Linked DNA regions of Homo sapiens. The protein of the gene in region 3 interacts with the protein of the main gene of each other region in a pairwise test. Each region holds a gene or a part of one and is shown on either strand. Other genes may lie near its edges.

Region 1 (7,027 bases), on a different chromosome or scaffold from region 3:
AGCGGGTGGACTGGAAATTTCTTTCTTCTCTTGCCAGGCAAGGGAACATAGTGCAACTTCTTTCTATCCCCAACAGTAACAAAAACCTTATAAAGAAAATGTTTTCATTTTTTTTCTTACTTTAAACCCCATTCTTAACAACAAGAACAACAACAAAAATGGAAAAGGGTTAAAAAACCTGTCTAGGCCACGTGTGGTAGCTCATGCCTGTAATTCCAGCACTTTGGGAGGCTGAGATGGGAGGATTGCTTGAGCCCAGGAGTTTGAGACCAGCCTGGACAACATGGTGAAACCCTGTCTCTACAAAAAAAATGCAAAAATTAGTCAGGCATGGTGGTGCTCGCCTGTAGTCCCAGCTACTCGGGAGACTGAGGTGGGAGCATTGCTTAAGGCCGGGAGGCAGAGGTTGCAGTGAGCTGTGATCGCACCACTGCACTCCAGCCTGGGCAACAGAGCGAGACCCTGTCTCAAAAACAAAACTGTCTAAAAGATATAAAGGGAACGAACATATGACGTTTTGTGGCAGTTTGAATGTCATGTTTATTGTATCCGCAGGGTCTCGATCAGTACCTGATATACAGTAGTTGCTCAGTGAATGCAAGCTGAATGAATGAATGTTTTCCTGATTTGATAGTAACTGGGTCTTTACCATTTCTTTTTTTTTTTTTTTTTGAGATGGAGTTTCACTCTTGTTGCCCAGGCTGGAGTGCAATGGCGTGATCTCGGCTCACTGCAACCTCCGTCTCCCGCGTGCAAACGATTCTCCTGCCTCAGCCTCCCGAGTAGCTGGGATCACAGGCACCTGCCACCATATCCAGCTAAATTTTGTAGTAGAGACGGGGTCTCACCATGTTGGCCAGGCTGGTCTTGAATTCCTGACCTCAGGTGATCTGCCCGCCTCGGCCTCCCAAAGTGCTGGGATTACAGGCGTGAGCCACCGCACCTGGCCCCTGATCTTTACCATTTTCAAATGTACTGTATCTTATGGTGCTCCCAAAAACTGTATGAAACATTAACTTAATGAAAGGGGGAGGTATTATTTAGTGATTGTATAAGGCCCACACCTAGATAGCAAGAAGGCTGGAACTCAGGTTTTCAGACTCAAATTACACTCTCTATTTTGTTACTTTTTAGCTATAAAAATAATTTTATGGCTCCATATTCCCTTTGCAAATAAGGACACCTAAAATTTAAGAGTTTCTTAAAATTTCTTTTCTTTTCTTTTTTTTTTTTTTTTGAGATAGATTCTTACTGTGTCACCCAGACTGGAGTGCAGTGGCAGGATCTTGGCTCACTGCAACCTCCATCTCCCAGGATCAATTGATTCTCATACCTCAGCCTCCTGAGTAGTTGGGATTACAGGCACCCGCTGCCAGGCCTGGCTTTTTTTTTTGTATTTTAGTCTAGATGGGGTTTTGCCATGTTGGCCAGGCTGGTCTTGAACTTCTGACCTTAAGTGATCTGCCCTCCTTGGCCTCCCAAAGTGCTGGGATTATAGGCATGAGCCACCGCGCCTGGCTGTTTCTTAAAATTTCAACTCCCTGACCTGCATATAGTCATGACAGTGTTTATAATTTGTATTTGTGGATTCACGTATTTGTGGATTCGCTGTGTTTCAAAGGATCCACCTAATCATTGTTTTCAGCAAAACCAAAAATGTGGACAGTTGTGTAATTTATTATTTGCCTTCTTGATTTCCCACCAAAATCAAACTACCTGTAAATACAGGACACATTCAGATTTCCAAAGAATAGAAATGGTCTAAAGTTATAATCTGTCAGAGTGTGTCTTACCTCTTAGCTAAGCTACCTCTCCTCCTGAGCCTTTGGTAGTTCATGGGAATAAGGAAATGAGACAGTATTTTTGCTTTAGAAGTAGGGTAGTCAAGAAGTCTTGAGAAACGTGAAATTGTCTTCTGAACAACCCACACTTTAAAAAAAATTGCGCTGAAGAATTTTACTTCAGTAAGTAAGTCTATTAGACTCCCCATAGCAGGCCTCAACTTCACCCTTTCGGTTTTCTCTTTCTTATTCAAATATTTTTGTGCCTCAATTATTTGGTTGTGTCTTATTGCTAGAATCAACAGTAATGAGCTGCACTCTTTTATTAGTGTTTCCATTAGAAGTTTAGAGCTAGATCACTGGGGTAAAAGAATAGTGGTTTATGACATAATAGGTATTTTGACTCTACTAGCCTTTTTCTTTTTTTTTTTTTGAGACGGAGTTTCGCTTTTGTCACCCAGGCTGGAGTGCAGTGGTGTGATCTCGGCTCTGCAACATCTGCCTCCTGGGTTCAAATGATTCTCCTGCCTCAGCCTCCCGAGTAGCTGGGATTACAGGCTCCCGCCACAGTGCCTGGCTAATTTTTTGTATTTTTAGTAGAGACGGGCTTTCACCATGTTGGGCAAACTGGTCTCAAACTCCTGACCTCAGGTGATCCACCCACCTCGGCCTCCCACAGTGCTAGGATTACAGGTGTGAGCCACCACTCCTGGCCTATACTAGCTTTTTAAATGCTGATTTTTAATTCCCGTATTATGGGGCATAAACATTTTCACCAGACATTTTGCCTAGGGCAAGGTGATTTACACATCTTTTCTGCATGTCTGATATGTTCTGTTCTTACACGATATTAATCCATTGGAATTTTGTGTTTGTGTGAGCAAGATTCACAAAGGCATATTCCTTTAAATGAATTTCAGAAGAAAAAGTTTCCAGTCCTATAAAGCCTCATATTTGAGTAGTATACTCCTTATCCCATTTCTTCTTCTGGCCAACTCACAAGATTTGGAATTATTTGGAAAGCAGTGACACAAAACATTTTTGAAAAGAAAGGCTAAAAATATCCAATAATGTGGTTATTCTTTTTAGACTTCCTTTGGCAGTCAGTGCATGTCATACGGTTAACATTCTTTTTCTGGGAGAAAAAAAAACTGAGTCTGACCAAATACTTTCTAGTGTGGCCTGATCACCAACTCTTAGCCCTGGGCATTAGCCCTCGCATTTTCCACCCCCAAGTCTCCAAGCATAAGTAGCTGTCTTTCAATAAAGGCCCCAGTTTGAAACGTGTATTTCACTCCTAATTTGGCCAAAGGCCATTGGCTAGCAGTCCCTCTTCAGAGGGGATGGTGAAAAGACAGTAGGATATATGATAAATGCATGCAAAGGAGCTTCTCTTCTATATGACAAGTCTTGGCTAACTTAGCCTCTTTGCATCTTCCTCTGTTTGAAGAGCTACACACATTTGCCTTGTAGGAAGTTTTTATTCTCATGGCAAGCAGGCATTACCTCTATTACAAGGCCCCGCTTATTGTTCACCCTGTGATGTAAGAGCTTTTAGGACTCCAACAATATTAGCCTTCTCTTTAATTCCTTTCAGGCCCCATCGCCATCTCAGAACCATGGCCTGGAGTTGCCGCCCTCCATTCTCCTTAACATGTCGACTCAGAAAAGTCTTAAAGCCCGCTGTTCTTTCCCTTCATAGCAAAAATTATAATTTATCATTATATTTTGTTTAATGAGGACAGAGACTAGCATTTTTTACCTACTACATAATATAAATGCTTGGCACTTAAGGTGCTTGAACAAATGAAAGCCTGCTCATTTTGGATGGATGTCCCAGTATTTGGTACTGTTAGTTTTCCTTTATACACAAATGTACACAATGTCTCCCCCTTTCCAAACTAGACCATAAGCCTTCACAGTATCTTACAGGTAGTAGTGATTTAAAATGGGATGATATTGGTAATATCTGTGATTACTGGTTAAGCATAACTCACTTTATATACTTTCCCCTTGTTTTAAGAAAACTCATCATTTATTCATTAATATATTTAGTTGACAATTTATTGTGTGCCTCCTATGTGCCAGATACTGTTCTAACCTCTGGGGTTAGGGTGGTGAACAATACACAGTCCCTGGCCTCTTTTGGCAATGTTTTTAAAAAGCTTACCCAATAGGCAAATGAAAATATCTCTCTAATTTTTCCCTAAAGAGCTTGCTCCTTTAGTGTATTTGAGGAAACTTTGAAATGTAGTTTTTCAGGAACACACCTATTTTGTAGTGTGGTAAAGCTATACATTGATTGATTGATTGGTTGAGACGGAGTCTTGCTCTGTCACCCAGGCTGGAGTACAATGATGCGATCTCCACTCACCGCAACCTCTGCCTCCTGGGTTCAAGCAATTCCCCTGCCTCAGCCTCCCCAGTAGCTGGGATTACAGGTGCGTGCCACCACATGGGGCTAATTTTTTATATTTTTAGTAGGGATGGGGTTTCACCATATTGGCCAGGCTGGTCTTGAACTCCTGACCTTGTGATCTGCCCGCCTCGGCCTCCCAAAGTGCTGGGATTACAGGAATGAGCTACCGTGCCCGGCCCTATACATCTGTTTAGATGGGAATGTTGACGTGGAAGTGTATCACTTCCTGTTTTACGTCCCTGTGTAAAACAATCACATTTCCTTATTGATGACTGTCTTCCAACAGAAACGTAATCATCTTCAAGGTTAGAAAATGTTTTTTAAATAACTTCAACCAGCGTTAACCAAACTGGTTAATTCACCAAAATGTTAACCAAAATTAACCAAATCAAATTTGGTTTATTTTCCAGGTCTCTTTTTTCTTTTCTTTTTTCATTTTTAAAGAGATGGGATCTTGCTATGTTGCCCAAGCTAAAATGCAATTGTTATTCACAGGCATGATAATAGTGCCCTATAGCCTCGAACTCCTGGGCCCACATGATCCTCCTGCCTTAGCCTCCTGAGTATTCCAGGTTTTTCTTAATAGTTTAAACAGGTAGTTCTGGTTTGGCTATCAGTAGTGTTGTCAAATAGCTTTTGTTTGCTTAATTTTATTTTTATTTTTTTTGAGACAAGTCTTGATCTGTTGCCCAGGCTGGAGTGCAGTGGCGTGATCTCGGCTCACTGCAACCTCCACCTCCTGGGTTCAAGCAATTCTCCTGCCTCAGCCTCCCAAGTAGCTGGGATTACAGGGGCATGCCACCATCCCCGGCTAATTTTTGTATTTTTAAAGTAGAGACGGGGTTATACCATGTTGGCCAGACTGGTCTCAAACTCCTGACCTCATGATCTGCCCTCCTTGGCCTCCCAAAGTGCTGGGATTACAGGCGTGAGCCACCACGCCCGGCCTTTTGTTTTTGTTTTTGTTTTTTTTAAATGGAGAGGGCCAGATAATGCTCTAGGAAGGATGTCAGAACCCATAAAAAATGATGAGTATTTGAAATATATGTAAAAACTTAAGTAACAAATCAGAAAATATATTCTGAGATAGAAGTGACCATTCTAAAACTGTGCTGTACAATACAGTAGTCACTAGCTACATGTAGTTTTTAAGCAATCGAAACGTGGCTAGTCTGATTGAGATTGCTGTGAAAAATACACACTGGATTTTGAAGATTAGAAATGTACCCTAAAACTTAAAGTATAATAATAAAAAAAAAGAAAGAATGTAAAATATGATAATTAAAAAATTGCAATTACATGTTGAAATGATAATATTCGATAATATTTGAGTTAAGTAAATTTAATGTTACTTATTTTTTAGCATGGCTATGGAAAACTTAAAATTATGCATGTGGCTCGCATGATATTTTTGTTGAACAATGCTGTTTGCTGAAGCAGGGCTGGCAGCCCTTGCCAGAGGTTTGAATCTCCATTGTCTTGGTGGCTGCAGATGGATGGATGTGGGGGTACCAGCCTGGTGTGTTGGGAAGATTTTTCTTTGTGAAGGGGAACTTGCCCTTTACTGTTGGGGATAGTTTCTTCTCAGCCTATCCAGGGACACACATACCAGCATTTTGGGGTTGTGAAACTTTTGTGTGGGGAACTTCCCTTTTTTTTTTCCACATGAGCCAATAAGATAAAACTGACCTAATGGCATTCTCGGTGCAACTCTGCCTTCAGTTTAAGGACAGAAGAGGGCTCATGTTTCATAGAGTATTAAAGGAGCAAGCTTAATATTTTGCATTTTGTGGACTGTAATTGCTAACTGCTGCTACATGATTCAGTCAGCTAAGAATAATTTACTAATTATATATTGCCTCACTTGGTTCTTTTTCCAGATGCTAAACAAGGTGAGATAATTAGAGGAGGAAAAAGGGTGAGTTTGGGAATTGGAGACCAGAAGGATGGATTTAGAAGATCTTGGAGTTAACGGACTTAGAATATAGTCAGCAAAGAGTTCACTTAAAATTAGTGCAGGTTGCCAGGCGTGGTGGCTCACGCCTGTAATCCCAGCACATTGGGAGGCCAAGGCGGGCGGATCACGAGGTCGGGAGTTCAAGACTAACCTGGCCAATATAGTGAAACCCCGTCTCTACTAAAAATACAAAAATTAGGCAGGCATGGTGGTGCATGCCTGTACTCCCAGCTACTCGGTAGGCTGAGACAGGAGAATCGCTTGAACCTGGGAGGTGGAGGTTGTGGTGAGCCGAGATTGCGCCACTGCACTCCAGCTTGGGCAACAGAGTGAGACTTTATATCAAAAAAAAAAAAAAAAGAAATTAGTGCAGGTTGACTGTGTGTGTGTGTGTGTGTGTGTAGTTTTCTGAATTCATTTTTCAAGTATTGAATATTCACAATGATGCTAGACTAAGTGCTAGAGATTTGGTGGTGAACGAAACAGATTGAAACCTGCCTTCATGGGGGGCGTATATAGGTTCGTCTGACTAGTCTAGATAAGTGAATTTGTGTAGTAATTGTTTTTTTGTAACTGGCTTAGTTTACTTAGCTTGATGTCATCAAGATTTATTCATGTTGGAGTATGTGTCAGAATTTCCTTCCTTTTAAAGGCTGAATAATATATCCATTGTATGTATATATCACTTTTTGTTTATCCATTGATTCTTCCATAGACATTAGGATTGCTTCCACCTTTTGGCTCATGTGAATAATGATGCTGTGAACAGGGGTGTACAAATATCTCTTAAAGACCCCTCTTAAAACTTTTTGCGATATATACCCATAAGTAACAGTTGCTATAGAATCATATGGTAATTCTGTTTTTAAT
Region 2 (7,027 bases), on a different chromosome or scaffold from region 3:
CCTGCTTTCCCAGGGTACTATAAGAAGTAGATTCCTACTGAGAACCGGAACCACAGAGAAAACCTAGTGCCTCTCACAGGGAGCTGGGGGGTCTGATGTGGGTGTTGCCCTGTTAGGCTGGAGTTATAAAGCTTCGCTGCCTTTTCAGGCAGAACAGGAACTGGAAGTTTCCACAGACTTCTCCACTGAGAACCTGTGTCCTCTGATTAGGTCCCACATTTGACCAAGGAGTGCCTGGTAGCGTTGAGATGTGGGAGAGAATGCACTAATCTGAAGGCAGCCCTGCGTCAGGAATTCAGCAACCTGGAAGAGGTACAAAAAGGGGTCCCTCTCCTGGTCAGCTACAGTGGAGGAAGCTAGGCAGGGTCGCTAACCTGGTCACTCTAACACCAGCTTTCACAGGCTTATTCTTTCTGCCTTTGATAAGTCAGACTTCTGATCATCTGATTGCATGTTTGCCCTCCTCTAACCTGGTCTAGAATTATTCTGGAAAATCTGATGAGGAGTTGGGGAGGACATGCCATGAATTGCTTCCTTTCCCAGAGTCACCCCATCTCCCTGAGTAGCTCTGCATGGCTTCTGTAGCTTCTGCCAATGAGGTCAAGGTCTGTAAAGGTTAGGGGTTGTGTTTGGCTGCTGAAGTCTAACTACTGTAAATTCATGTTGTAAGGGTTTACTCTCTCACATAACATTCTTTCTCACGTATTATAAGGGTTTATTCTCACACATACGGTGGCTCACACCTGTGATCCCAGCACTTGGGGAGGCTGAAGCAGGAGGATCACTTGAGCCTAGAAGTTTAAGACCAGCCTAGGCAACATAGCAAGACCCCTCCTCTACAAAAATAATTTTAAAAATTAGCCAGGCATAACGATGTATACCTGTAGTCCCAGCTACTTAGGAGGCTGAGGCAGGAGGATTGCTTGAGTCTGGGAGGTCAAAGCTGCAGTGAGCCATGATTGCACCACTGCACTCTAGCCTGGGTGACAGAGTAAGTAGGACTGACAAAAAAAAAAAAAAAAAAAAAAAAAAGCCAGAGGTAGGCAGTTCAGGCCTATCTTGATGGCTTCTTCATGACATTATCAGGAACTGAAGCTTTTTCTCTTTATGGGCTCTGTCATCCTTAGCACAACTTAGTACAAGGGTATCATCCTCAAAATAACAAGATAGCTGCTGTCACTGCAGCCATCACATCCAAGTTCCAGGCTCTGAAAAGGAGAATATAAAGAAAAAAATGGCAAATGGTCATACCCCTTTAAAGGGCTTTAAATCCTACCAGAAATTCTACTCAATGGCTATTTACATTTCGTTGGCCAGAACTTAGTTGTGGGGTCATAACTATCTTAGAGAAAGCTGGGAAATACAGTCTTTTAGCTGGGATACCCTGAATAAAATCAGAGGTCTGTAATTAAGGAAGAAGGGGGAAATGGGTGCGGTGGCAGGAATACTCTTTGCCAGTAGATGCTTCATTAACCTGGCAGTAATGGAGCTACTTATCCTGTACTTCTAGAATAATCAGGAAGGCAGTTCTTTTACTTCCTTTATTTTTGCTCCAGAAACTGACAAATTCACCTTATGGGTGGGTGGTTCCTCTATTGGCAGCCAGAGAATACAATTTTTTTCCCCTTAAGGGAAGACTGGTTATTAATACTCTTCCATTTGACCTTTATCAAGTGGAAACAGATTAAATGTATTGATATTTCCAGTTGCCTATCTCAAATTTGTACGATTAAGTATTTATGGATGACGAATGGTCATGTGTAGGAAATGTCAACCTTTTGTCCTGAGGTCACCAACTGTGGCCTTGACTCCAAGGAGGCCATATGATGTGGTGGAAAGAATCTTGGATCTTAGGCTTGGCTTTACTGAATTCCAGAACCTTGGGCAATGTTCTGTACCTCTCTGGGCCTTGGTTTTCCCATGTGTAAAATGAGGGATTATTTTGAAATGTGTGTTCCTCAGAGCCTCTGGGTTCTGCAGGGGACTGCCCAGTGAGTGGAGGCCTGGTAGATTGTTCTAGACACTGCTTTACTTAGGTCAGCACTGCCTTCAACCACCATGTTCAACCTGACATCTAAGAAGATGGCATTTGGGGAGAGAGGAGAGCTGCTGCTTTAAAAAAGAAGTTCGAAAATCTTGTGAATAGAGAATTTATAGTCTATTTTAAAGATCAGCTGAATGGACCCCATCATGCCTGGTTACCTTCTCACAGATAAACAAATACTGGACCAGGGAAAGGAGCTGGGAAAAAAAAAACTCTTTGAATTCAACGATACAGTAATTGAAACATTTTCATCAGTTTCCCTTCTACCTCCATTTGGATGATGGATGAACTTTTTAAATTACAGATTGCTAGATGAAAGTATAGGGTTATGATGGAGATACAGTTCTTCTTCAGTCGGGGGTCTTTTCCAGGGCAAATGAACCAGTATTTTGTGCCATGAATCGTGCTGCAGATACTTGCATACATCATCTCATTCAATCTTTCCAACAACCTTCTCAGGTACAAATGGTACTAGTCCTGTTTTGCAAATTGGAGTGGCCTCTCTGTAAAGGCTCAGAACTAGGTACTAGGAATAAAAAGAAATTAAAGACCCTCGAGGGGCTCAAAGCCTGGACAGGGAGATAGGCTGTTAAGCCCATTTAAAACCTGGGTGTGTTGAGTGCTAGGCTGGAGACATGCATACAAGAAGGCTGGTCTGTGGGGGTAGATAATGCCTCTGTTGACTCTTAGGATGAATTAGAGGCACAAGGGTGAGAGCCTGGTGTGTTCGGCAAACAATAATCAGTGAGGGGTTGACAGCGAGGGAGTGATTGGTAAGAGGTGAATGTGGAGGGTGGACCAGAGTCAGATGCTAAAAGGCCTTTTCCACTGTGCCCAGGGATTTGCACTTTATTTCAGAGTTGATGGTGAGTAATTGAAGCCTGTCAAGCAGGAGAGTGGTGTACTCCTTCATGCTTTTAAAAGTATTCAGTCCATCACTTGAACCCAGGAGGGGGAGGTTGCTGTGAGCCAAGACTGCGCCACTGCACTCCAGCCTGGGCAACAGAGTGAGACTCTGTTTCAAAAAAAAAAAAAAAAAAGAAAAGAAAAGAAAAAGTATTCAGCCCAGCTGAGCACAGTGGCTCATGTCTGTAATCCCAGCACTTTGAGAAGCCAAGACGGTAGGATCGCTTGAGCCCAGAAGTTTGAGAACACCCTGGTCAACATGGCAAACCTCCATCTCTTTAAAAAATACAAAATGTTAGCTTGGCATGGTGGCTTATGCCTGTAGTCCTAGGTACTTGGGAGGCTGAGATGAGAGGATCACTGGAGCCTAGGAGGTTGAAGCTGCAGTGAGCTATAATTGCACCACTGCACTCCAGCCTGGACAACACAGTGAAACCCTATCTCAAAAAAAAAAAAAAAGAAGAAGAAGAAGTTCAGCCCAGCAAGAATGTAGAGGATGGATTAGAGTGTCCAAGAGGAGGGACTGGGAAGGGACAAAGAGGACCCCACTAACGAGGGTTGGAGAGGGAGGTTTAATTAGAGAGATTTTGAGGAACTAAGATGAGATGAAATCTGAGGAAGGAGTAGGAGTTATGGAGGATGGTTTCCAAGTTTGTGGCCGGTAAATGTGATGCTTTTCACTAAGAGTTTGAGGGAAGACACATTTTGTCAAATTTGTGGTGTTGATGGGATATTCATATGCGGGCAGAGCTTAGAAGAACAATGTATGGTCTCTACTGGACCTTTGGAATGGTTTTATGGGCTAGGAGCTTTCACCAGAGAGTTTAGGAATGTCATTAGTGGGGTGGTGATAAATGTTTAAGAATCAATTTTCTCTTAAAAGAGAAAGAAAAAGAAAAAGCACGGATTTATAGCATTTGCTGATTTGGGTGGTGTAAACACTTCCGTCAAGGTTAATTTTGAGCTACCAATGTGCTATTTCTAAACTCAAGAGCTGGCAAAAGATGTGGGCAGCTCCAGCATGTCACTGAATAAGAAATTTCACTTTATCTTCAATAACTGAGCCCCAGGAACACTGTTGTTAACCAGCCTCTATATAGGTAGCTTTCACTAACCAGCCTCGGTGTAGGTAGCTTTCACTGATGCTATTTAAGGACCACTGAGTACTCCACATTGTCCTAACAGGTTTGAATGTGGTTTTGTCCCATAGAATGTTAGCAAGAATTGTAGCTATGGCTGGGCGTGGTGGCTCACACTTGTAATCCAGGCACTTTGGGAGGCCAAGGAGGGAGGATCACCTGAGGCCAGGAGTTCAAGACCAGCCTGGGCAACACAGTGAGACTATGTTTCTACTAAAAATTAAAACATGAACTGGTCATGGCAGTGCGGGTCTGTAGTCCCACCTTCTCTGGAGGCTGAGGCGGGAGCATCTTTTGAACCCAGGAGTTTGAGCTTGCAATGAGCTATGATCGTGCCACTGTACTCCAGCCTGGGTGACACAGCAAGACTCTGTCTCAAAAACAAATAAACAAAGAATTATAACTACAATGTAGGAAATATTGAAATCTGAAAACATGACCAATGTACTTGAATTATGCGATCTGTTCCTTTAAATGCCAAAATATTTATTCCAGGAGATTCTAGTGAAATTGAAATTTATCAGAATAATTCTAATGGAGAGGATCCCCTGATTTATGTAACTCTTTCACATGGTTTTGCACAATCAGGATTTTTTGTGAGCTAAAAATATATTAAATACTCATTGTCTTTCTGAGTGATAAGCAAGCCAAGATTTCATGCATAATCTTCTGCTATGTTATCCTGAAACAGAAGGCTCAGTTAACCTTTTGTGGCCTTAAACTCTGACACTTTCTTCTTTTGAAATAACTGCCTTGTCTAACTTTTTAAGTTTTTTTTTTTTTTTGGCTTGTTTTTTTGTTTGCTTGTTAGTTTTTTAAATCTAGTTTCAGGTGGGTTCAGTGGCTCATGCCTGCAATCCCAGCACTTTGGGAGGCCGAGGCGGGCAGATCATTTTAATCCAGGAGTCCGAGACAAGACTGTACAACATGGCAAAACCTTATCTCTACAAAAAATACAAAAATTAGTTGGATGTGGTGATGCATACCCGTGGTCCCTGCTACTTGGGAGGCTGAGGTGGGAGGATCACTTGAGTCCAGGAGGTCAAGGCTGCAGTGAGCTATGATCATGCCACTGTACTCCAGCCTGGGTGACAGAGTGAGACTTTGTCTCCAAGAAAAAAAAAATTAAGTTCCATCAAAATCAAAGATTTATTGTGCTTGTTATATAACCACATTTTTCTCTAATATCTTTTACAATTCTTTGAGATATATTACTGCCACTTTTATTATCAAACTAGCAGCCTGCTCACTGGCTTTCCTGTTCTGAACATTGGCATGAGTTTTAAAACTATGACACTTGTCTTGTCTTGCTGCACTTTATGTCTTCAAGCAGATTTTCTAGCCCTTACTGAATCATTACTCTAAGCAGCACACATTTTTTAGTTTTATTCTTTTTCAGGTATTGACTTTCCCATTTCAGAATGGGACTTGAGCCAGGCTTCATTTGATCTTTGTGGATTTGAATGTGGCAGGACCTCTTGGTGTCACTTTTTATCTGTGCCTTCCAAAAATATTTTCATTATGGAAGTAGTCAAATCAAGTCCAAGTGCAGTGAAAGGTGGATTTGGTCAGATTTCCTTGAGGCTTTGGAGTTTTGCTTTAAATCTAGAAAGTGTTCGTGGCTTCTGAATTGGTTCTGCACTCTGACTATTGCTTGGTCCTTTCTTCGTCATCATCAGAGCTCCATAAAAGAGAGCGGGGAGGGGATAACATAAATAATGCTGAAATAGCCCTGAGGGATGAGACATGGCCCAGCAACTGAAGCCTTCGTCTGCCCGTGGCCACAGGGCACTTTATGGTTTTGCTTCTTGTCATTCAACCACCTGCCTTGGGGTGCTTCACTTTGCATTTCCACGCAGAGTTTCCCGCATTGCCAAACTTGATCATGTGCCTTATGTGTAGCAGTTTGCATGAGGTGGAATTTGCATAAATTATGTGTGCATCACCCAGGAGCATCTGTAGTTAAATACTTTATTGATTCTAAATTTTGCCCATAATCTTAATTTTTTAATTATTTTATTTTCTTTTCCTCTTTTAGAGATTGGGGTCTCTCTCTATTGCCCAGGTTGGAGTGCAGTGGCACAGTCATGGCTCACTGTCGTCTTGAGCTCCTGGGCTCAAGCAGTACTTCCACCTCAGCCTCCCGAGTAGCTGGGATTACAGGCTGAAGCCACCGAGCCTGCCTCCGTTATCTTAATTATTATTATAATTATTTTTTTGAGTCAGGGTCGCACTCTGTCACCCACATTGGAGTGCAGTGACACAATCACGGCTCACTGCAGCCTCAGCCTCCTGGGCTCAAGTGATTCTCTCACCTCAACCTCCTGAGTAGCTGGGACCACAGGTTCAGGCCACCATGCCCAACTGTTTTGTTTTTGTTTTTATTTGTTTTAATTTTTTGTGGAGACGAGGTCTCACTATGTTGCTCAGGCTGGTCTTGAACTCCTAGGCTCAAGTGATTCTCCCACTTCAGCCTCCCAAAGTGCTATGATTACAGGCATGAGCCACTGCACCTGGTAATCTTAATTTTTAAACTGTTCTTTCTTCTCATCAAAAAAGACATTTATTCAAGTTAGATTATATTGTCTTGGTTTAGTTTTGCTTTTGCTCTTTCTTAATTTTTATTAATTTCCAGTGATGAAATTATTTATATATTGTTTAATTGTTTCTCCTTTGATATCACCAGGATAGGAAGAAAAGAAAGTTTATACCTGGTTAATTCGTCACTGAAAACAATTTTCTGTATCCTTTTATATATAGTAGACTACAAGCTAAATTTTTTATCATCTAAGTTAACATGTCTATAAACTAAATTCATTATTACTAGCTATTTTTAATAAGTTATTGAGATATAATTCATATGCCACAAAATTCACCCTTTTCCAGTGTACAATTCACTGGCTTTTAGTATATTAAGTGAGTTGTGCAACTATCACCA
Region 3 (7,027 bases):
CTAGACAAGAAAGTGAAAATTGGGACTGAACAAAACATCCCATTTCTGTTTAATAAATATAGCCAGTAATTCTTTGTGCTGTTTTGATTGATACTGGGCTGGGTAGATCTGCTTTGTTGCCAGACTTTTAGCCCTGTGCTGCCTGATAGCCAGTTGTCACGTGTGGCTGTTGAGCCCTTGAATGTGATTAATATAAATTGAGATGTGCTGTAAGTGTAAATACACACTGGATTTCAAAGTACATAAAAGCTAGTATTAGTTTAGTAATGAAGTTGCAAATATTTCAAATTAACCACATTTGAGCTTCAAAAGCTGAGCCACAAGATTAAAAATGAGTAAAATATCATCTGCATTTTGATAAATGTTGCTTAGTGTCATCTGGCATAATACAGTTTTTTGGTTATAGTGGACATTTGTATTTTCTTAGAACCATTAAAATAGTTATGAAAATGTGTTTTAGGATTATCAACTGGAAAACTAAGCTTTATCATTATTGTGTTGTTTTAATTATTTTATGTATTTGGATTTATTAATTCAACTTTGAAAATCTGTTTTTTCCCATGATTCCATGTAGTGGCACCCAATCAGTGTTTATTCAACTACTGAGGTTGTTGTCCTTTGAAAGAATCAAACCTGTGGTGTGGTCATCAGGTGGCAATGATTGTTGCAGTCCAGATAACCAGATTTGAGAGTTTACTTTTCTGTTCGTTGACATGGTTTGGCTCTGTGTCCTCACCCAAATCTCATCTCAAATCGTAATCCCCATGTATCAAGGGAGGGACCTGGTGGGAAGTGATTGAATCATGGGGGCCATTTCCCCCATGTTGTTCTGGTAGTGAGTTCTCATGAGATCTGATAGTTTAAAAGTGTGTGGCAGTTCCCCCTTCTTTCTCTCTCCTGCCACCACGTAAGATGTGCCTTGCTTCCCCTTCATCTTCTGCCATGATTTAAGTTTCCTGAGGCCTCCCAATTATGGAACTGTGGGTCAATTAAACCTCTTTTCTTTATAAATTACCCAGTTTCAGGTAATTCTTTATAACATTGTGAAAATAGACTAATACAATCATCATTAACCTTATGTTATTACAGAATTTTAATAGTTTTTTAAAAGCAATTTCATAATTAGTTAATTTACTTCTCTCAGCAACTTGGTAGAAGTTGAACAAGAGAGAATAAACGCTGCCCTTAAGCTCACATATGTAGTATTACTAGTTGTCTGGTTGTCTATCTTAGGCCAATCCTTATACAAAATTCTTGACTTACATTAGGTCATTTAATCCTGAGAACAACCACCTGTGGTATGAATTTATTATTCCACTTTTACAAGTATGGAGGCTGAGGCTTAGGGATAGGAGGAGTTTTGCTTACATTTACATAGTTTGTAAGTGTTAAAGCTGTGGTTCAAATCCAGGCGTACCTGACTTCAAAGTCCCAATTCTTCTTCACCCCCAGTTGTACTATCAAAGAACATTTTCCTTTGAACCTATTTAGGAAAGAAGAGTTGAAGATAGAATTCAGTTCCATTTGCATATTGATCTTTTAAAATTGTTAACCACAGCATAATCTAACCTTATTTTAATCCCAGTTTAGTAAACAGTGACCTTTTCTAATATACACATGCATTTTTTTCTCCCCATTGTTATATATACACCACATTTTCTTTTTTTTCTCCCTAACTTTTATTTTAGGTTCAGGGGTACATGTGCAGGTTTGTTACATGGGTAAATTGCATGGCTTGGGGATTTGGTACAGATTATCACCCGGGTAATAAGCATAGTGTCTGATAGGTAGTTTTTCTTTTCTTTTTTTTTTTTTTTCTGAGACGGAGTTTCACTTTTGTTGCCAAGGCTGGAGTGCAGTGGCGCGATCTCAGCTCACCTCAACCTTCGCCTCCCAGGTTCAAGCAATTCTCCTGCCTCAGCCTTCCAAGTAGCTGGGATTACAGGCATGCATCATGAAGCCTGGTTAAGTTTTGTATTTTTAGTAGAGACGGGGTTTCTGCATGTTGGCCAGGCTGGTCTCGAACTCCCGACCTCAGGTGTGAGCCATCACGCCCGGTCCCTGATAGGTAGTTTTCAATCCTCATGCTTCTCCCATCCTCTGCCCGCAAGTAGGCCTCAATGTTTATTGTTCCCTTCTTTGTGTCCATGTGTACTCAGTGTTTAGCTCCTACCTATCAACATGTGGTATTAGTTTTCTCTTCCTGCATTAATTCACTTAGGATAATGGCCTCCAGTTCCATCAGTGTTGCTGCAGACTACATGCTCTTGTTCTTTTTTATGGCTGGGTAGTATTCCATGGTGTCTGCATACCACATTTTCTTTATCCAGCCCACCATTGATGGGCATTTAGGTTGATACCGTATCTTTGCTATTGTGAATAGTGCTGCAATTAACATGTGCACACGTGTTTCTTTATGGTAGAATGATTTCTATTCCTTTGTAGAAATAGTCCCATTAATGGGACTGCTGGATTGAATGATAGTTCTAAGTTCTTTGAGAAGTCTCCCAACTGCTTTCCACTGTGACTGAACTAATTTATGTTCCCACCAGCAGTGTATAAGCATTCATTTTTCTTTGCAACCATACCAGCATCTGTTATTTTTTGACTTTTTAATAATAGCCATTCTGATTGATGTGGAATGGTATTTATTTCATTGTGCTTTTGATTTGCATTTCTCTAATAAGCAGTGATGTTGAGCATTTTCTCATATGCTTGTTGGCCACATATACACATAAATCTTTATGTTTGAAGGTGCAGACCCCTTTTGGTCTCAAATAGACCCTTTTGGCCGCTTCGAGTTCAGCTATTAACCTTCAGGTGGTTCAGTGCTTTCCTTACACTTTCCCATATAATATCTCCACTCCCCACAGCATACACAGGCTATTAGAACTAAAGTATGGTCTTTTTTTTTTTTAATCTCTGTGACTTAAAATAGGTTCTGATCAACTCTGACTCCCATATGTTCTCTTGAGTTGGTAAAAGTTGAAAAGTTATCTGCATTGGATAGAGATATTTCAAACACAATACTCACTGCTGCGTCACTACATATCCTAACCCCCATTTTCAGCCTACGGGAGGAAGGAAACATCCTTTCTTAGAAACTGTCAACCTTTCTGATATGAATTTACAGCTGATGACTATTTCTTGTGGGAATTTACTATTCTAGTTTTAAGCCTTTGTATAAAGGTTAAAACTTAGTTCCAGCTTTTTCATATCCTCCTTTGAACCTGTTTTTGAAAAGACTAAATACCAGCCAGAAGAAATATCTTAAAAATACATTACCTTTCAGGTGGTGTAAGTCAGTTTGGACAGAAGGCACACTGAAAAATGCTTAAGTATTATTTGTTCTTTATAATTTCTTGTTTAGATTTTAAGACCTTTATCCTAAAGAATGTCACTCCTTTCTTCTTAGTGTACCTCGGTATGATCAACCACCTCCTGTCACATACCAGCCACAGCAAACTGAAAGAAATCAGTCCCTTCTGGTACCTGCAAATCCATATCATACTGCAGAAATTCCTGACTGGCTTCAGGTTTACGCACGAGCCCCTGTGAAGTAAGTACATTTACAACACAAATTTGTTTGAGGAGTGAGTGAAGGGCTGAATGGAGTCTCTGGGCTGCTCGATCCAAGTAGTGTGCCATATTTTACTCTTAATAATATTCGGCTTCTAAGTAATACGTGACTTGAATAAAGGATGTCATAGTTTATAATGTGTGAAAATCATTAATTAGAAATATTAGTTCTTCAGACATTTATAGAATCTTCATTTCTTTGTGTGCGGGCCTCTGCTATTAGGGATACAAGTAAGAAACTTACATTCTCATAGGAGAAGATTAATTTGTAAATAAGTGATACAGTACTTGTGATAAAAGTAAGGACCTGGGCTTGGCACAGTGGCTCACACCTGTAATCCCAGCACTTCGGGAGGCTGAGGCAGGAGGATCTCTTAAGTCCAGGAGTTCGAGACCAGTCTAGGCAACATAACGAGAGCCCCATTTCCACAGAAAAATTTTAAAAATTAGCCAGGCTTTTTGCATGGTCTGTAGTCCCAAGTACTTGGGAGGCTGAGGTGGGAGGATAGCTTGATCTGAGGAGTTCAAGTTCAGCCTGAGCAACATAGCAGGACTCTGTCTCTATAAAAAATTTAAAAATTAGCAGCATGCTGTGGTGTATGCCTGTGATCTCAGCTACTTGGGAGGCTAAGGTGGGAGGACTGCTTGAGCCCAGGAGTTTGAGGCCGCAGTGAGCTATGCTTGTGCCACTGCACTCCAGCCTGGGTGACAGAGCATGAGAGACCCTGACTGCCCCCCTACTAGTGCCAGAAAAAGGAATGATAGCAGATGGCATTTTCTTTCCTATTTTCCTCTTTTCTTTGTCCCTTGATACCACCTGACCTACAGCTGTATGTTTGTATGCTGATTCTAAATAGTACATAATATCTGTATGCGTTTTTATTTTCCTTAAATCTGGAAGAATATGTGCCTAACTGTTAACCTTAGTATTTCTGGGGGTGGATATGGTTGAGGAGAGTTATTCTTTCTGTTGTATGTTATTTCTACTCTATAGTCATGTTTAATAAGAAATAGCATAATCTTTCCTTTTTGGGGGAAGAGATAGTACTTAAATGGAATTCCTGGTTTCTTACAGAAAGAAACAGATTCCTGAAGATTATAGTCTTTTTGAATTCTGTGGTTCTGTGAGCTAACTATAAAACTCAAGGAAACTAGCAAATAGGTTGTAATTCTTCCAAAATGGGCCAGACTGACAAAAAGGGAGCAAGTACTATACTTCTTTACTGCTTAAAAACTTAAACAAGAGGTCTGGAAGCCTGTTGCTTTCTAGTTGATTCTAATTAATGTTGCTGAAGAGGATGGAAATGGTTAATATTCTATCAACAAAGGGTGAGTGGTTATCTATGAATTAGATAATGAGAATCAATTATCACAACAAAAAGAGACATTTTTGCAAAAAAAATTTGCATGTTTCTTCCTTTTGTTTTTCAGACAATTGAGAATCTGAAATTCTTTAATCCTGAAATTCTTTAATCCTATCTCTCACAGTAATTTACCAACACAATTTTTGCATATACTTCTAAAACTTGATTTAGAAACAGACTGTGTTTTAAATTTGTATTTAATTTTTGTAAAGTTATGTTCCTGTGTCTGCTCACAAAAGTCTATAATGCTTGGTATAACTGTACTCAAGCTGAACTATAGGATAAAATTTTAAAAGTTAGGCCGGGTGCGGCGGCTCATGCCTGTAATCCCAGCCCTTTGGGAGGCTGAGGCGAGTGGATCACAAGGTCGAGAGATCGAGACCATCCTGGCTAACACAGTGAAACTCTGTATCTACTAAAAATACAAAAAATTAGCTGGGTATGGTGGCACGCGCCTGTAGTCCCAGCTACTCGGGAGGCTGAGGCAGGAGAATCATTTGAACCCGGGAGGCGGAGGTTGCAGTGAGCCAAGATTGCGCCATTGCACTCCAGCCTGGGTGACAGAGCGAGACTCCATCTCAAAATAAAATATAATAAAATAAAATTTAATCTTTGACAGCAAAAACATTGTCAAGAACATATTTACTTTCTGTTATTTCTCACACACACACCAAAACACTAGTCCTCAGCAGTGTGTGGCAGGGGTATTTTTTATTCCAGTGGCTTGGCAGTCCTGCAGTGTCACCATTGACCCTGCTCTGGATACAGGTGAAAAAGAGGGAGGAGTGGACACAGTGTTATGGCGGGTGGGTGCAGGGGACTTAGGCTACATGGTGATACCTGGAGCTGAGGATAGCAGCACTGTTGATCTTGAAGTCAGCATGCAGTGTGGACAGGTTATTTTTGGTAGCATTATAGCAACTGGCATTTGTATATATGGCTTATTTATAAGTAGTATTTGAATAGAATACTGCCCTAGGAAAAACAGAGTGAAAGAGATGCTAGAAGCATGGACTACTGGAGTGTTTTACACCCAATTTTCGGAATGATTTACCTGTGTATATACAGTATAAATGACTAAAAGTTAAACTTGTGGAAGCAAATTTCTTGGCTAGTTAAGAAGGAAAGAATGGGAGTTTATACTTTTCAGAAAAAGAAGGAACACTTAGGTGATTATAGGCAGAAGGGTAGTAACTATGTAGAAGCAACAGAGGAAAGAATTTGGAATAGGATTTCCATTCCATGCTTTGCAGTTTTTTCACATCTGTGCCCTTCTTGGAGTGCACTTTCTTCCCCCAGAAGGATTTTCTCTAATCTGATTTTGTTGCTTCTACCCATAATCGTACTCTTGATGCTGAATGCTGATTGGCAAGTCAGAAACTTGGCCAGGCATGGTGGTGCACCTGTAATCCAAGCTACTTGAGAGGCAGAGTCAGGATTGTTAGAGCTTAGGAGTTCTGGGCTGTGATGCACTATGCCAGTCGGATGTCTGTACTCTTTGGCATCAGTATGGTGACCTCCCAGGAGCAGGGACCACCAGGTTGCCTAAGGAGGGGCGAACTGGCCCAGGTTGGAAAGGGAGCAGGTTAATACTACTGTGCCGATCAGTAGTGGCATTGTGCTTGTGATTAGCCACTGCACTTCAGCCTGGGAGACATAGGAGATCTTCATCTCTTAAAAAAAAAAAAAAAAAAAAAAAAACTGACAAAATTGTTTGAAGATTTTTTCTTCCTTTAGACAAAACTTGAATACTTATACAGAATGATATTCGTGTCTTAAAAATAAGTATAATATTTACCATCTTATTTTTGTTCTTTGTTTTCCTTGCTAGAAAGTACACAGATGATAGATTAGTTTAACATTGTTGTAGTTCACCTGGTATAAATGGTAACCATCTTGACTTAGTAGACATTGCTGAATTGCCTCTTAGCTAACTCTGGGAGATTAAGATTTTTTGTTAGGAATTATGAATTTGTTTCCAAGGAGCACATAAAATCTTAAGTTACAAGAATGGTGGATGTTCTAAGAAATACCTTATAACTGTTTCTTCATGGAGGCTCATTGAGTATTTCTTACAGTATCAC
Region 4 (7,027 bases), on a different chromosome or scaffold from region 3:
CAAAACAGCTTCTTCAAAGGGGTTTAGGTCCTTGGCAGTCAGGCTTTGTGTGTGTCAAGGGCTTATGCCCTGACAAATATGCCTAGCCTCTGTGGGCGCCTCCCTTGCACCTGCTGCCTGCCTCAGGGCCCCTCTGCGTGACTTCTGTTCTAGCTGGCATTACAGCGTCCCTACAGCTGTCCACGTGGCCTGGTGTCAGCCGTGCCCAGCAACCCCACTGCCTGTGTCTGGTGTGCTCTGAAGTTCCTTGTTGGTCTGAGAGATATAGGATGGGTGGGCTCTCTGCTCTCTGGTAACTGGAACCTCCTTTCCACTCCTGCTAGCTGGAGCTGATATCAAGGAAATGCAGAACCTGAGTTTCCAGGACTGTTACTCCAGCAAGTTCTTGAAGCACTGGGACCACCTCACCCAGGTCAAGAAGCCAGTCATCGCTGCTGTCAATGGCTATGCCGTGAGTGTTGCTGCCAAGAGTCTCCTCCTCTCGTGGTTGAAGGAACCGTGCTGTGCATACACAGCATAACAGATTTTTATTTTGAAGAGGCCTTTAGTTCCCAGGCCAGCAGCCTCCTTTCCTGCCTCATGGTGCTAAAGAGCCAGGAACTGTGTGGAGAGGACACCTCCTGGCATCTGCTTTTTTCGTGGCTGTTCACCTGACAGCTTCTCCCCAGCAAGCCTCTCTTCCAGGGTGGGGGAAGAGAGGTGTTGGCTTTGGCTACATCTATAAACTAGCTTCTTTTGCTCCCCTTGAAAGCTCTGTGTCCTGGGACTATTTGAAGTGCTGAGACTGATCTTGGCCTATAGGGAAGGCAATGTGATCATTTCATGACGCTCCCTGCCGTGTAAGCCAGGGGTCTGCGGATTGTGATCATTTCATGACGCTCCCTGCCGTGTAAGCCAGGGGTCTGCGGATTGTGATCATTTCATGACGCTCCCTGCCGTGTAAACCAGGGGTCTGCGGATTGTGATCATTTCATGACACTCCCTGCCGTGTAAGCCAGGGGTCTGCGGATGGAGTTTTCCCGGCACAGCCACACCCACCTGTGCACCTAGTCTCTGTGGCTGCATTTCGGCCACAGCAGCAGAGTTGAGTCGTGGCAGCAGAGCCTGTAAGACCCTCATGGTCCTTTACAGGATGTTTGCCAGCCCCTGGTAAACAGCATCAACCATCTGTAGTTAACTTATCATAACAATTATCTAGTTTGGTGCCACCATGTTAGTCTTTGTCATACCCCCAACACTGTTTCTTTTAAATGGAAAATTTGAATAAGCAAGCAGAGTGATTTCTGACTGGGTTCCCCTGGTAAGACTCTCCTGATGCCGAATGTTTTACAGTTTGGCGGGGGCTGTGAGCTTGCCATGATGTGTGATATCATCTATGCCGGTGAGAAGGCCCAGTTTGCACAGCCGGAGATCTTAATAGGAACCATCCCAGGTAAAGAGTGACACTGTCTCTGGCATAGATGCCTTAGGTAATTACTCAAAATCTGCCTGTGTCTCAGGGCCCACAGCTCATATCTGACCAGAGGCCCTGGATGGACAGCCCCATGGCTGGTCAGTGGTCCCTCTGTGGACAGCCACGGAGGCTAGAGTGGTTGTGACAGAGCTTGGGGGGGGCCTTAGAGTCCCGGGACTGTGACTGTGCCCACATCTGATGGTGTTGGGAGAGGCTGGTCCTGGGTAACGCTGGCTTCTAACCATGACAGTTCTTGCTTGTGATTCGTGTCCATGGCAGAGAGGGAACATGGTGACCCTGGGTGGCACTGGGAGCTCTGCACACTGCCATCTCACTGGCCATGGAGGTCACATGGCCTGGGTTCAGGGTGGGGAGTCAGACCCCCCACCCAGGCCCGTGAGAAGGGCCTGGGCTCTTGGCAAAAAGCAACACCCTCTAACCCCAGGGTTCTCCTGGTAGGAAGGGTGGGCCCAGGCCGAGCAGCCAGGAGGGAGCTGAGACCCTGAGGGGAGCAGCTGCACTCAGGGTGCCCTTCGCTGCCCTCTGAGTTGGACGAGGCCGATTCTGAGGCCTGGAGCTGTGAGCTCGGTGCATTTGTTTCGGGTCTGATCCCTAGAACAGCTGCTACTATAAGGGACCAGTGCCTGGGGTCAGGGAGGCCTATAAGCTTCTAATATGTTGACCACAGAGGCTGGGGAGGGCCCTACAGAGTCATCACCTTGATCTAATGTCAGGGTGTTGGGGGAGTGTAGTGTCCAGCCCTACGGGGCTTAGCAGGTGTTCTCCCCATGTGCGGAGACGAGAGATTGTAAGAAATAAAGACACAAGACAAAGAGATAAAGAGAAAACAGCTGGGCCTGGGGGACCAATACCATCAAGAGGCGGAGACCGGTAGTGGCCCCGAATGGCTGGGCGCACTGATATTTATTGCATACAGGACGAGGGGGCAGGGTGAGGACGGTGAATCCTCTAAGTGATTGACAAGGTGAAGCAAGTCACGTGATCATGGGACAGGGGGCCCTTCCCTCTTAGGTAGCCGAAGCAGAGAGGGAAGGCAGCATATGTCAGCATTTTCTTCTATGCACTTACAAGAAAGATCAAAGACTTTAAGACTTTCACTCTTTCTTCTTCCACTATCTGCTACGAACTTCAAAGAGGAACCAGGAGTACGGGAGGAGCATGAAAGTGGACAAGGAGTGTGATCGTTGAAGCACCACAGGGAGGGGGTTAGGCCTCCGGATGACTGCGGGCAGGCCTGGAGAATATCCAGCCTCTCACAAGAAGCTGGTGGAGCAGTGTTCCCTGACTCCTCCAAGGAAAGGAGACTCCCTTTCATGGTCTGCTAAGTAATGGTTGCCTTCCCAGACACTGGCGTTACTGCTTGACCAAGGAGCCCTCAAGCGGCCCTTATGCAGGTGTGACAGAAGGCTCACCTCTTGCCTTCTAGGTCTCTTCTCACAATGTGCCTTCAGCACCTGACCCTATACCCGCCAGTTATTTCTTGGTTATATTAGTAATACAACAAAGAGTAATATTAAGAGCTAATGATTAATAATGTTTATACTAATGATTGATAATGTCCATGATCATCTCTATATCTAATTTGTATTATAACTATTGTTATTCTAACTATTTTCTTTATTATACCGAAACAGTTTGTGCCTTCAGTCTCTTGCCTCGGCACCTAGGTAATCCTTTGCCCACAGGGGAGCACCAGATGTGGGGCCTGAGCTTGAAAAGGGGCTGCTGCCCCTGATGTTCCCGGGCTCTTGTGCTGCCTGGCCTCTGACCCCTGGACCTAGTCTCAGGGCCTATCTTAAGCCCCTTGGAATTTGCTGGCTGCACAGCTGTGATGTCTTCTTGGGTTCACTCATCACAGTGCCAGCCATGACCAGCCCCTCCCTGCAGGTGCGGGCGGCACCCAGAGACTCACCCGTGCTGTTGGGAAGTCGCTGGCGATGGAGATGGTCCTCACTGGTGACCGGATCTCAGCCCAGGACGCCAAGCAAGCAGGTATGGGTTGGGGCTGCCCGCAAGAGCCACCTGGAAACCCGGGGTGGGAGCCCCACAGAAACCCAGGGCGGCATCCAGGTGTCCCCCTCGGGGGAGCCCCACAGAAACCCGGGGCAGCATCCAGGTGTCCCCCTCATGGGTGCCCCACAGAAACCCTGAGCTGCATCCAGTTGTCTCCCTCGTGGGAGCCCCACAGAAACCCAGAGCTGCATCCAGGTGTCCCCCATGGGGGAGCCCCACAGAAACCCAGGGCGGCATCCAGGTGTCCCCCTCGTGGGAGCCCCACAGAAACCCCGGGCAGCATCCAAGTGCCCCCACGGTGGTTGCATGAGCTTTTGGGTCCTGAGGACCTGGGAGAAGACTGACTGCCTTTTGTTTCTACATTTTGAAGTACTGTATGTACGGAAGTGAACCACACGTAAGTATCTGGTACAGAATAACAGCCCAGCAATTGCGTCCCCAAAATGCAGTGTAAGCAATGGGCATCTCCAGGCCTCAGTGGCCGGTCCTCCCACTGCCCTGTTGGTGATCACAGTCCCCGTGTCTGGCCGCCTCTGCCGTCGGAGCTGTGGCCAGCCTGGCCCACATGTCTGAGAGCACAGTGACCGCAGTGCCGAGATCACTCAGCACTCAGGAAGGGGCACGTGCGGCACTTCCCGTGTGGAAGCCGCCCTTGCTTAGCGTCCAGAGGCTGGGGTGCTCCAGCCACGCTGCTCCCCAGCGGCCACTCACTCGAGAAGGGATAGACAAGTGCTGTTTCTGCACATCACTCACTGACTTTCTTGTGTTTCAGGTCTTGTCAGCAAGATTTGTCCTGTTGAGACACTGGTGGAAGAAGCCATCCAGTGTGCAGAAAAAATTGCCAGCAATTCTAAAATTGTAGTAGCGATGGCCAAAGAATCAGTGAATGCAGGTAGGGGATCTGCCAGGAAGACACTGGAGAGGTCTCCGTGGCTGTCAGGAGCATTCCTCAGCAGCAGGCTTTCTGGCTCCAAATGAATATGCCTTAAGCCCTCCTGGGCAGAAATGCTTCTCAGTGTCTCAGTTCTGCTGTCTGTAGAGTCGTGGTTTCTGGTCACGCACTCAGGAACTCCGCTGAGATGTTCCCAGCTCCCCTTTGTACCAGGGCCCAAGAACTGAGCCAGGCCTGGGAGGTGAGGGCAGTACAGAGCTGGCAGTGGCAGGGAAAGGCTGAGAAGGGAGCAGAGGTCCCAAATGTAAAATGGTCTCTGCCATGGGGAGGCTCGGTTCACCTCCCGAGACCTGGGGTTGGCGGCTGCGTGTGCGCCTGGCAGGTGGCTACGCAGGCTTGCAGCCCAGCACCACGCTGTTCGTTCTTGGCCTGGATCCCTTTTAGTTCTCCCTCTGCCAGGGAAGTGGATCTGAACCTCCCCCTCCTCAGAAATGCTCAAGTTTTAATGTCACAATTTATTCTCAGCATGTGGAATGAGATGGTTATTAGCTGGTTGAGTCCGGACAGGTGTGGGTGGCCCCAGGCAGGTCCCCTAACCTCTCTGAGTGCATTTATCTCGAGGGTGTGGCCGTCCCCCGGGCTTGCCGTTGGCTTGAGGCAGGATACAGTGAGGAGAGCATTTTGAAAGAACGGAGGCTGCTGTCGCCCGAGGTGTTTGGCAAGGTCGTGCTCCCCTGGGAGAGGATGCTGGCACCAGCCCTGGAGCCACAGCGCCTGCCTCCATCTGCGCACCTGGATCTGCTCTGCTTGGCCTCGTGCAAAGAACGGGCCTGGAATGAGCAGAGCCAAAGGCGTTCTTGGTGCCGGCCGCGCCCAGCTCTGGCTCTCGTGCTGTCCTTCCTGGTTTTCATCCTTGGTTATTTTTCTCTGTTTGCAGCCCCGTTGCCGCCTCACAGCCTCTCCTCAAGGGCACAGTTTGCCATCTCACCTTTCATCCAGTTCCTCTCCCTTCTTGGGGCCGTGGGCTACCGGAGTGTGACGTTTGGGGGCCATAGCAGAGCTGTTGGTTCTGCCAGGTCTCCGCTGGGGCAGTGCCTTTGAGAAGGGCGGCACCATGGAAGCCTGTGCAGGGCTGGGCCACGTCGAAAGCACAGTTGTGCATGGGTCAGTGAGGAGGGCTTCCTGTCACCGTGCAGGAAAAGTTCTGCATGTAATATCTCCGTTCATAACTCTGGGACTTTGTTTTTCAGCTTTTGAAATGACATTAACAGAAGGAAGTAAGTTGGAGAAGAAACTCTTTTATTCAACCTTTGCCACTGTGAGTAAACAGTGTTCAACCGGAGAATCAAGCAAATTCCAGTCACACAAGTTGCTGGGAATTTCCTTTTAAATTTTATCATTAAGTATCGTTTCTTTCTGGTCAGAACTGCCAGCCTCACCTTTAACGGGATCAGATTGGTTCCATCAGTGGGTCTTGATGTTAGGAAAAAAGTAGAGCATGTACAAGTTCAAAAGTACAGAAACCTTACAGGGGCTTTTCTTGTTTTTCCTGTTATGTGAGGTCTGTGAATTGCACCCTCAAGCAGCTCCTTTATTGAAAATGCAGTTTCAGCCGGGTGGGTGTCGAGCATCCGTAGCCCCAGCTTCCTGGGAGGCTGAGGCGGGTCGTTCGAGTCCAACTGGGCAGCAAAGCAAGACCCCGTCTCAAAAAAAAGACTTTTTTAAAAAATGAGGCCGGGCGCGGTGGCTCACCCTGTAATCCCAGCACTTTGGGAGGCTGAGGCGGGTGGATTGCCTGAGCTCAGGAGTTTGAAACCAGCCTGGGCAACATGACGAAACCCGTCTCTACTAAAAATCCAAAAAATTAGCCGGGCGTGGTGGCAGGTGCCTGTAATCCCAGCTACTCTGGAAGTTGAGGCAGGAGAATCGCTTGAACCCAGAGGCGGAGATTACAGTGAGCCGAGATCACGCCACTGCACTCCAGCCTGGGAGACAGAGTGAGACTCTGTCTGAAAAAAAAAATGTAACTCATTTTACCCATGTTTTTTTAGATCATTCCAATTATTTGGAATAGGCTCAAATGTATTCTAATAAGATAAGCTGAAGCTTTAGAGCAATATTTTATAAGATTTCTGCCAGTAACTTAAAGTAATTCCTCTAATTACCATCATAATTTTAATTTTCTTCCCTTTGAGGCAGAGTCTTGCTCGGTCGTCCAGGCTGGAATGCAGTGGTGAGATCTCAGCTCACTGCAACCTCCACCTCCTGGGTTCAAGTGATTCTCCTGCTTCAGCCTCCCGAGTAGCTGGGATTACAGGTGCCCACCACCACACCTGGCTAATTTTTGTATTTTTAGTAGAGACAGAGTTTCACCATGTTGGCCAGGCTGGTCTTGAACTCCTGACCTCAAGTGATCTGCCTGCCTCGGCCTCCCACAGTGCTGGGATTATAGGCGTGAGCCACTGCACCCGGCCAGATTACCATTTTAATTCATGTCTTTCACTGGGAGAAAGTCATACTTCGGTGTTTTAATTGTTCTATAAAATAAAAATTAAAAGTGGTTTGGGCACCTGAGGAAGGGGTACAGATGCGTGTGTGTGTGTGTGTGTGTGTGTGTGTGCGCGCGCGCACACCTGGGGACACACGTG

Evidence for each region.
Region 1: the proteins of SAV1 (region 3) and RASSF3 interact in a two-hybrid assay, tested with the Homo sapiens proteins (one study listed by IntAct).
Region 2: the proteins of SAV1 (region 3) and GSTO2 interact in a two-hybrid assay, tested with the Homo sapiens proteins (one study listed by IntAct).
Region 4: the proteins of SAV1 (region 3) and ECHS1 interact in a two-hybrid assay, tested with the Homo sapiens proteins (one study listed by IntAct).

The regions. Positions count from the first base shown.
Region 1 is NC_000012.12:64,613,479-64,620,505, forward strand, and holds part of RASSF3 (ras association domain-containing protein 3), read left to right. Parts: intron 1-7,027.
Region 2 is NC_000010.11:104,279,160-104,286,186, forward strand, and holds part of GSTO2 (glutathione S-transferase omega-2), read left to right. Parts: intron 1-210; coding exon 211-312; intron 313-6,775; coding exon of another isoform or gene 6,776-6,808; exon of another isoform or gene 6,809-6,831; intron 6,832-7,027. UniProt on the Homo sapiens protein: Exhibits glutathione-dependent thiol transferase activity. Has high dehydroascorbate reductase activity and may contribute to the recycling of ascorbic acid. Participates in the biotransformation of inorganic arsenic and reduces monomethylarsonic acid (MMA).
Region 3 is NC_000014.9:50,637,282-50,644,308, reverse strand, and holds part of SAV1 (protein salvador homolog 1), read left to right. Parts: intron 1-3,415; coding exon 3,416-3,559; intron 3,560-7,027. UniProt on the Homo sapiens protein: Regulator of STK3/MST2 and STK4/MST1 in the Hippo signaling pathway which plays a pivotal role in organ size control and tumor suppression by restricting proliferation and promoting apoptosis.
Region 4 is NC_000010.11:133,363,328-133,370,354, reverse strand, and holds part of ECHS1 (enoyl-CoA hydratase, mitochondrial), read left to right. Parts: intron 1-323; coding exon 324-451; intron 452-1,332; coding exon 1,333-1,432; intron 1,433-3,361; coding exon 3,362-3,466; intron 3,467-4,259; coding exon 4,260-4,379; intron 4,380-5,629; coding exon 5,630-5,697; intron 5,698-7,027. UniProt on the Homo sapiens protein: Converts unsaturated trans-2-enoyl-CoA species ((2E)-enoyl-CoA) to the corresponding (3S)-3hydroxyacyl-CoA species through addition of a water molecule to the double bond.